Linked DNA regions of Homo sapiens. The protein of the gene in region 2 interacts with the protein of the main gene of each other region in a pairwise test. Each region holds a gene or a part of one and is shown on either strand. Other genes may lie near its edges.

What was found.
Region 1: the proteins of ZBTB1 (region 2) and MAML3 interact in a two-hybrid assay, tested with the Homo sapiens proteins (one large-scale study listed by BioGRID and IntAct).

What each region holds. Positions count from the first base shown.
Region 1 is NC_000004.12:139,727,417-139,731,240, reverse strand, and holds part of MAML3 (mastermind-like protein 3), read left to right. Parts: exon of another isoform or gene 1-573; coding exon 574-825; exon of another isoform or gene 826-966; intron 967-3,824. UniProt on the Homo sapiens protein: Acts as a transcriptional coactivator for NOTCH proteins. Has been shown to amplify NOTCH-induced transcription of HES1.
Region 2 is NC_000014.9:64,521,746-64,525,751, reverse strand, and holds the end of ZBTB1 (zinc finger and BTB domain-containing protein 1), read right to left. Parts: coding exon 2,106-4,006; 3' UTR 801-2,105; downstream 1-800.

The DNA.
Region 1 (3,824 bases), on a different chromosome or scaffold from region 2:
CAACAACTCTGGCCAGGAGGATTTTTCTTTCTGACATATATCTAAGCTCTCAAATGTTGCAACTCGTTAGAATTCCATCAAATATCAGATCTGTTGATTAACAAATTCCTGCAGTTTTCTGCAAATGTCCCTCCTACTTGCAAAGAAGACGTCCATTTTGGCCAAGTAGACAGTAAGAAATAAGGATTAACAGGTGAGGTCAGGATGTGTCTCGTGTTCCAGACTTTAGGTGAGCTCAGCCTGAGGGCTTATTCCCTTTCCTTGGAGGAACACAGGATGTTAGTTGAAAATCCAGTCTATATGCAATAGTCAGTCCCATCCGAAACAGACTGGACTTGGCCTTGGACTTCCCAGAGCCATGCTCTCTTACTGTCCCTTGTGGCCTCTCTCATTCTACTCAGGTAAGGTCGGGTTTGAAGCTACGTTTATGGAAATGCAATGCGTGCCACTCAAAAACCCTCCAGTCCATAAGCTGGGACTTCTGCCCCGTTCCCTTTTTCCAGGGGCTTCCCTTCAAACAGCAGTGAGTCTCTATGGGGAATCCCTGCATCTCCCTCTCTCTTGTCTTCCCAGGAGCAGCATCCAGTTGGACTTCCCCGAACCACAGGCCCCATGCAGTCCTCCGTGCCCCCAGGCTCAGGTGGCATGGTCTCAGGAGCCAGTCCCGCAGGCCCCGGCTTCCTGGGCAGCCAGCCCCAAGCAGCCATCATGAAGCAGATGCTCATTGATCAGCGGGCCCAGTTGATAGAGCAGCAGAAGCAACAGTTCCTGCGGGAGCAAAGGCAGCAGCAGCAGCAGCAGCAGCAGCAGATTTTGGCGGAACAGGTAACATGCCCCTTGGCGTGATTCATTCATTCATTCAGCAAGCACTTATTCAGCACCTGCCTGCTGCCTGTGAGGAAGTGGCAGTTCACATCCTCCATCAAGATGCTCACGGTCTAGCATTTCCCAGGATCACAAGAGAACCTGAAGAATTTAGACCTTTCAATTAGTTAGGGTTTTTCCTATAATGAATTAATTTGTTCTTAAAAGACAGGCTCCAGCCATCAATTTGAAGGCCTGTGTGCCAGAGACATTTCTTTGATTCAAGTCTGACTCCTTTCCTTCTGATTTCTGGTACAGGGGTCTGTGTAATCAGCACATGGCGGGGACTGTCTCACATGCTCCATAAGCCGTAATATTTCTAGCTTGAAGAAAAAAATAATAATTCAGAGAACTCTGTTTCTTAGAGGAAATTGACAGGAAGAGGAATTGAGAAGAATTCTATAGAATGGGTAATGAACAATGGATCAGGAACAATAGCAGAATAATAAGGCCTGCAGAACTACCTGGAAACCTGAACTCTGGGTCACACACAGGGTGCAAACTTAAGAAAACTCCCCACAGCTTTTAAAACAGCTCAGGAAATCTGTGAGTTAAAGGAAAGCCTAACACAAATACAGCTTTACCTTAAGCATCTTTGTCCACCCTCGCCCTATAATTCCTCAGCTTTGAGAGAAAGCCTTCCCTGCAGACTGCTACTGTAGATTTCAATTTGTTTTGTTTTTAGAGATGCCCATACCTGACTTAGCATTATCCTAGGGAAAGGCCTGAGGCTGTCCACAAGAGATCCCCAGGCGGCTTCTGTGAGGGTCTGCACAGAGAATCTTGCACAGCAGGCTCTTTCTTATAGGAGGTGTGAGGTTGTCATATAAAGCTGAAGGCCCAACATAAGTCTGCCTCACAGTTATCCTTCTAGAATATTCCTGATAGGGTCAGAATTTTATGAATTTTTTCTTAAAGAAATAGAGACGGGGTCGCACTATGTTGACCAGGCTGGTCTCGAACTTCTGGCCTCAAGCGATCCTCCCATCTCAGCCTCCCAAAGTGCTAGGATTACAGATGTGAGCCACCACGCCCTGCCAGAATTTTGCAAATTTACTAAGCATCCACCACCGTGTATCCTGTGTAGGACACGGGCCCATGGAGGTCCCTATTAACCAAGAATAGCAGTTCAAAGTAACACCAGGCATCCCCCAAAGAGAAAAATTGTACTGCTGAGCACAGTTCACTTATGTTCCCTTTTTTTTTTTTTTTTTTTTTTTGCTTTTGTTCCTGAACAGCTGTGTAATTATCTCCCTTTTTACCAAGGTCAGTCAGCCGCCTGGCAGCTATTGTACAAACAAACCTCTATCCCTCTCACCTACATAAGGTGTGCGACAAGGAGCCATGCTAATCTCTCTCAGGCAGTGACAAATGGAGCTGCCGAGGGCAGCTGGGCTCTGTAAATCCTCTCCTCAGCCAATCCCAGGAAATCTCAGGTGTGCCTGATGTTTTGAGTGATGGCTTTTGATATGTGTGCTGTGACCAAAGACACAAAGAAGGCCCAGGGCAAGCAGGCAGAGCTCAGCTGTGCAGCCCAAGGGTGTTCCCACACGGTGAGGCCAGCCCGACCCTGGGGAGCACAGGGTGTGGGAAGAGTGTGAGAAGAGACACGTCAAGATGATGCCCCCAGACAAGGAGGTGAGAGGTCAGGGGAGACCCCTCAGAATCCAGAGCATGGAGAGAGCTGGGGCTTCTTGGGAAAGACAAGGGAAATGGGAAGCCGTGACCTGTGGATCATTCCGTAGCAACTGTGTGTACCAAAAGATGATGAGGGATGAGGGGAGGATCACTTTCCTCAGGGCCAAGATTTGTCCGTTCTTTTGCATGTGATGTGATTTTGGAAAAACCACTAACTTCCCTCTTCATCTGCCAGATTAGGTTTTAATAATTTCCCAGCCCACCTCATGTAGCTGCTTTAAGGATCACATAAGATCATGTGTATAAAATGTTTTGGAAGCTGTATGTGCTGCACACATGTATGTGGGGGCCTGTCACGTGGCCCTGGTGTCAGCGAATGTCATGTGAGAGCTGCAGCCACATGGCCCAGCCAGGTCAGTGGAGCGTCTTGCCTGTACCTGAGGAGGGTGCAGATTTAGTGCAGGTTGTCCAAGTGCAGGTCTACAAGGAGTAAGTGCTCAACTTTTTTTTGTTTGTTTTGTTTTGAGACAGGGTCTCACTTTGTCACCCAGGCTGGAGTGCAGTGGCATGATCTCGGCTCACTACAACCTCTGCCTGATGAGCTCAAGCAATCTTCCCACCTCAGCCTCCAGAATAGCTGGGACCACAGGCAAACACCATCACGCCTGGCTAATTTTTGTATTTTAGTAGAGATGGGGTTTCACCATGTTGGCCAGGCTGGTCTCGAACTCCTGGGCTCAAGCAATCTGCCTGCCTCGGCCTCCCAAAGTGCTGGGGTTACAGGTGTGAGCCACGGCACCCGGCCAGCTCTCAGTTTTTCGTTTTGAGAGTGAATACTGCCAGATCAACACCAATCTTGGTTGCTGCAGCATTGAAAGTGTCCTCACACTTTGGATTTTGGAAACAGATTTTGGGTTTCCTGAAAGGACATGTGAGGGAAAACAGAAGGATTTGGGATCTTACATATTTTGGGAAACTTTAAAATGATTCTCAGTAGACTTGGCAATCAGAGCAGTGCAGGTTGAAAGTAGGCATGAATTCACATTTAATGCCGTATTCTCCAAAAGTTCAAAGCACATAACCTCTCATCCATTCACAAAGGTTAGACAGAACTTAGAAACATTCTACATCATGAAGTCCCATCATTTTACAAATGAGGAACTGAGGTTATGTGGGGAAACTGAGCTTATGTGATTTATATGAGATCACAGAGCTAGAGAGAGACAGAGCCAGGATGGAACTGAGGACTCCTGATTCCTGACTCCAGGATACACCCTCAGTCCCCCACAGGCTGCCAGGGGCTCATTCCTAGTCGTAAGTGG
Region 2 (4,006 bases):
GTAAAGTTTATATATTTGCTTGCTAATTGTTAGCTGTTAGTACATATCAAAAGACTAAATTAAGCCCCCTTCCTAATGGAATAGATAATCGTTTCTTCAAAAAGTGGTAGTATTTAGAAAAAGCCCTATTCTTTAACAATGGGGAAAGCCACTGCAAGAAAAATTTTGATGAGTCACGAAAAAAGTGATCTCAAATAAATTATGTCCATTATGATACTATATACTGTAGTTTGGAAACTTGGTTTATCTGATCTCTTTATACCACTCTCTGATGGTCTCTGGGTTAGAGAACTTTTATCTGGTTCCTATCAGTAATATACATACCACATTTCATTTTAAGTTGGATTTCAAATTTAATTACTTGATAAACTATTGTATCTAAGTAAGGGTAAGATGAATCACTTTTCCTGCTTTTGCTGTTAAATTTTTAATTTTTGTGTGTATTCTACCCGTCCCCTGCCTACTTCCCGTTATTTGAATTCTGCACTTGGTTCCTGTGCTGTTCCTATCCTTACTTAACACTTCAACATATCCCCACAAATCTGAGCTCACATGGTGCTCTAATGCTTTCAACTAAATCTGTACTCACCAGTATGTCTCTCAGTTCTTTTGGCAACTTGTTCTTTTATGTAAATTGTATACAAAATATGATTTGCATATTTTAAATATGATGTGAACAAAAAGAGCAATGCTATTAGTGTTCAGAATCACAAATTTATATTTTTAAAATTAGGAGTTAATTAAAATCCCTTTCATTATGAAAAGGGTACTACATTGCAAGTAATTCACATTAAAAGGCATTCTATTCAATAGATGTGTTTATTGGTGGGTCAGTTTTGCCAATGTTTTAATTCACATGTAATTATGTAGACCCTGTGTCAGCAACAACTAACAATACTACTACTTTAACTGAAAAAATGATAAACTGTTTCCATTGATATACTCTGTGATTATTTTATAATCCTCAAGTTTTATAGTCTTTTACAGAAAAAAATGATAATAAAATATGGCGATAAACTGCAATTTGCCACATTTCCTCCAAATCTTAGACAGTATAAAACACAAGACATTTTTTTGTGCACTCTACTTTTATAGAACAACCAGGTTTATAATTGATCTCTTTATTTTATTAGATTTATCAATATACATGGAAGCTTTCTCAAATCTCAAAGTTCCAGAAGTATGTATTGTAAAAAATCATCTTTTCCTTTAGAGGTCATATTCTTAGAGAGCTATTAAAGTCTATTTATAAACAAAAATAATTGATAAGCTAACACACTTTAGAAATCAGAATATTTTAAATTAAAATATTTTTAATGAATACAAGATATGTCTTTTTAATTAACTATCATAGTTAAATTTAATATCACAAAACAAAATGGCTTATCCCCACTAATTTTTCAAGTGAGGTAAAGCCACTGGAATTTACACTTAATATAAGTTTTAAATGTGATAATTAAATGATAATATTTTATCAATTATAGGAAATATTCATTTATAAAAATTTCCTCAGGTTCATCAATCTTTTTAGGCCAAGTTTGAGCCCATGTCAACCTTAAAGGTTAGATTCAGTGCACCTAACTTGCCTAATAAGCTTGTCAATTTAAGAATATGAATTTCATTAATAAGGGGGAATAAAGAGTAGTTAACTCACTAAAAGCAAACGGGATAGTTTCAAATAATTACTTAAGGAATTTTTAAAATTTAAACAGAAATGGCCAATGATTCTGGGTTTAAAATTTCACAGGATAACCTTAAAAAAAAAAAAACACATAGAAATAGTGAAGTCATCACCTTATTGATGAAAAACTAAAGTTTAATAGTCATTGAATGGGTAACAACCACTTGTAGTCTACATTTAAAAATTTTAATCATAGCTAAGAAAAACTAAAAACAAATAATTCTATTAAGAAACAACAAAAATGATAAACATTTAATACCTAAATGTAGATACTTAAAATCCTAAACAAAAATATTAAAGTTAAAAGGGCCTTGAAATTTGTTTCTAACAAATCATCTTATATAATCAATTCCTAAATAGCTCATATCCTTTGCTTTGGTGTTTTATCTGCTATCATCTAAACATTAGTACAGTAGAAAATCACTCAGGTTCTTTTCAAATGCTTGGCATTATAATGTGATCTCATATCTTTCCTCAAATTAAATTTTGCTCCACATATTCCACATGTATACAGATGAACATCCATGTGCTGCTCCAACTGTTCATTATTTGGGAATATCTGAAAGCAGACCTGGCATATAGTCTCACCAGCAGATAAATGAGAAATCATATGCCGTACATGGTCATGTTTTCTGAAGTTTCCTTGATCACAAATGGAACAGACATACCTGGCCATGCCTTTGTGCATATCATTGTGCAGTCGCAACTGACGCTCTCTTAAAAACTGCTTTCCACATGTTTGACAAACAAACTGTTTTTCCTTAGTATGAACAGTATAGTGTTCTCTTAAGTGACACCGCTGATAAAATCCTTTTCCACACAGATTACAAAAATGCTTTCGTCTGTGATCTCTTTCATTTTCTTCCATGATGGCACTCTTAAACATATCTTGATCTAAGCAGCTAGACATATGTTCAACCACTAGATTTTCAGTTTCAAAACGCTGGCCACAATTAGGACATCGAAAAGGGCAGGCAGAATGTTTAAATAACTGCTTTTTTTGGATACTGTTTATCTGGTAATGATTGTCCCTAAAATCATCCAGCATTTCAACAAACATATCTCTTATTTCGGACTGCTCATCAGGATTCTCTTCCAAGTCCATTTTCTCCTCAGTATTTCCTAACCCATTCATGGTCAGATCTTGGGGCTCGCCACATCGTTGAGCATGTTCCTGAAGCTGCCTACCCTTTACAAGTATTTGTCCACATTTACCACATGCACAGATATTTTCAATGTGTTTGGCTAAGTAATGAGATGACAGGTCCTCCTCGGTTATTGTAAGTCCACACAGCTCACAAGATGCATTTTCAGCATCCTCTTGTACTGGACTGCTGTTGTTAGGGGGCCTCATATTCTCTAAACCACCTCTTTCATCAGCACTTACTGACATTCGAGGTTTTAGAGTTTTCCTACCACTTTTTTTTATGCTGACATCTTCTTCAACATAGTATCTATAAAATGGCTCTTCAGGTTCATCTTCTAATTCATCATTGTCAGTGGATTCATTACAGTCTTTATCAGTAACTTTAATAATGTTAAAGTCTTTCAGTTCATCTGTAGGAATATCTTCTGGCTCCATCTTAATAATAATCCTTTTCCTCTCAGCAGCTCTGCTTTTCTCTTCGCTTGCTATTTCAGACTCCACTGTGCTACTTTTTCTGCTTCCAGTGGTTGAAGCTGAATCATCAGCAGCCTGGCTTGTGTCTCCTCTGTATTTGTCCGTCTGTGCAGAAAATGTTTTGGAAGAATCTTTTTCACCAAATTCAGCTTTGATGTTACTGTCTTTTCCATCTCTAATATCTACTATTCTATGGTAAGATCTTGTGTTTTGGTATAAATGTCTGTTAGTACAGGTTAGCACATGCTCATCTAATAATTTTTCACAGCTAAAGCCAAATCCACAGCTATCACAGGTAAAACTCCGCCCAAAGCGTCTTGACACACGTTCTTTTGGAGTAGATAATTTGGACACGGAACTTTTTTTACATACATCAAATAGTGGCTCAGGAAAATTACCTAATTGTAAAGACTCTTCATCAGCCTCTCTATTATGTGGTGTATTTACCGTTGAACTTGGCTCTGCACACCACCTGTTGGCTTCATTGCCATTTCGAGCCACAGTATCTTCATACATTCTTACCCCAAATATCATTTTGCTGTTCTGTTTGCTGGAAGCAGAAGAGGAACATTTTGAACTAGAACAATCTGCATCCTGGATGTCTTCTAAACAGTCAGGAACATTGTATAGCTGTAGGTAGTTCATTGCCACTTTAAACTGCTCAAAACTGGAGGGAGCTGTCATAATTTTTCCTAAATACATAA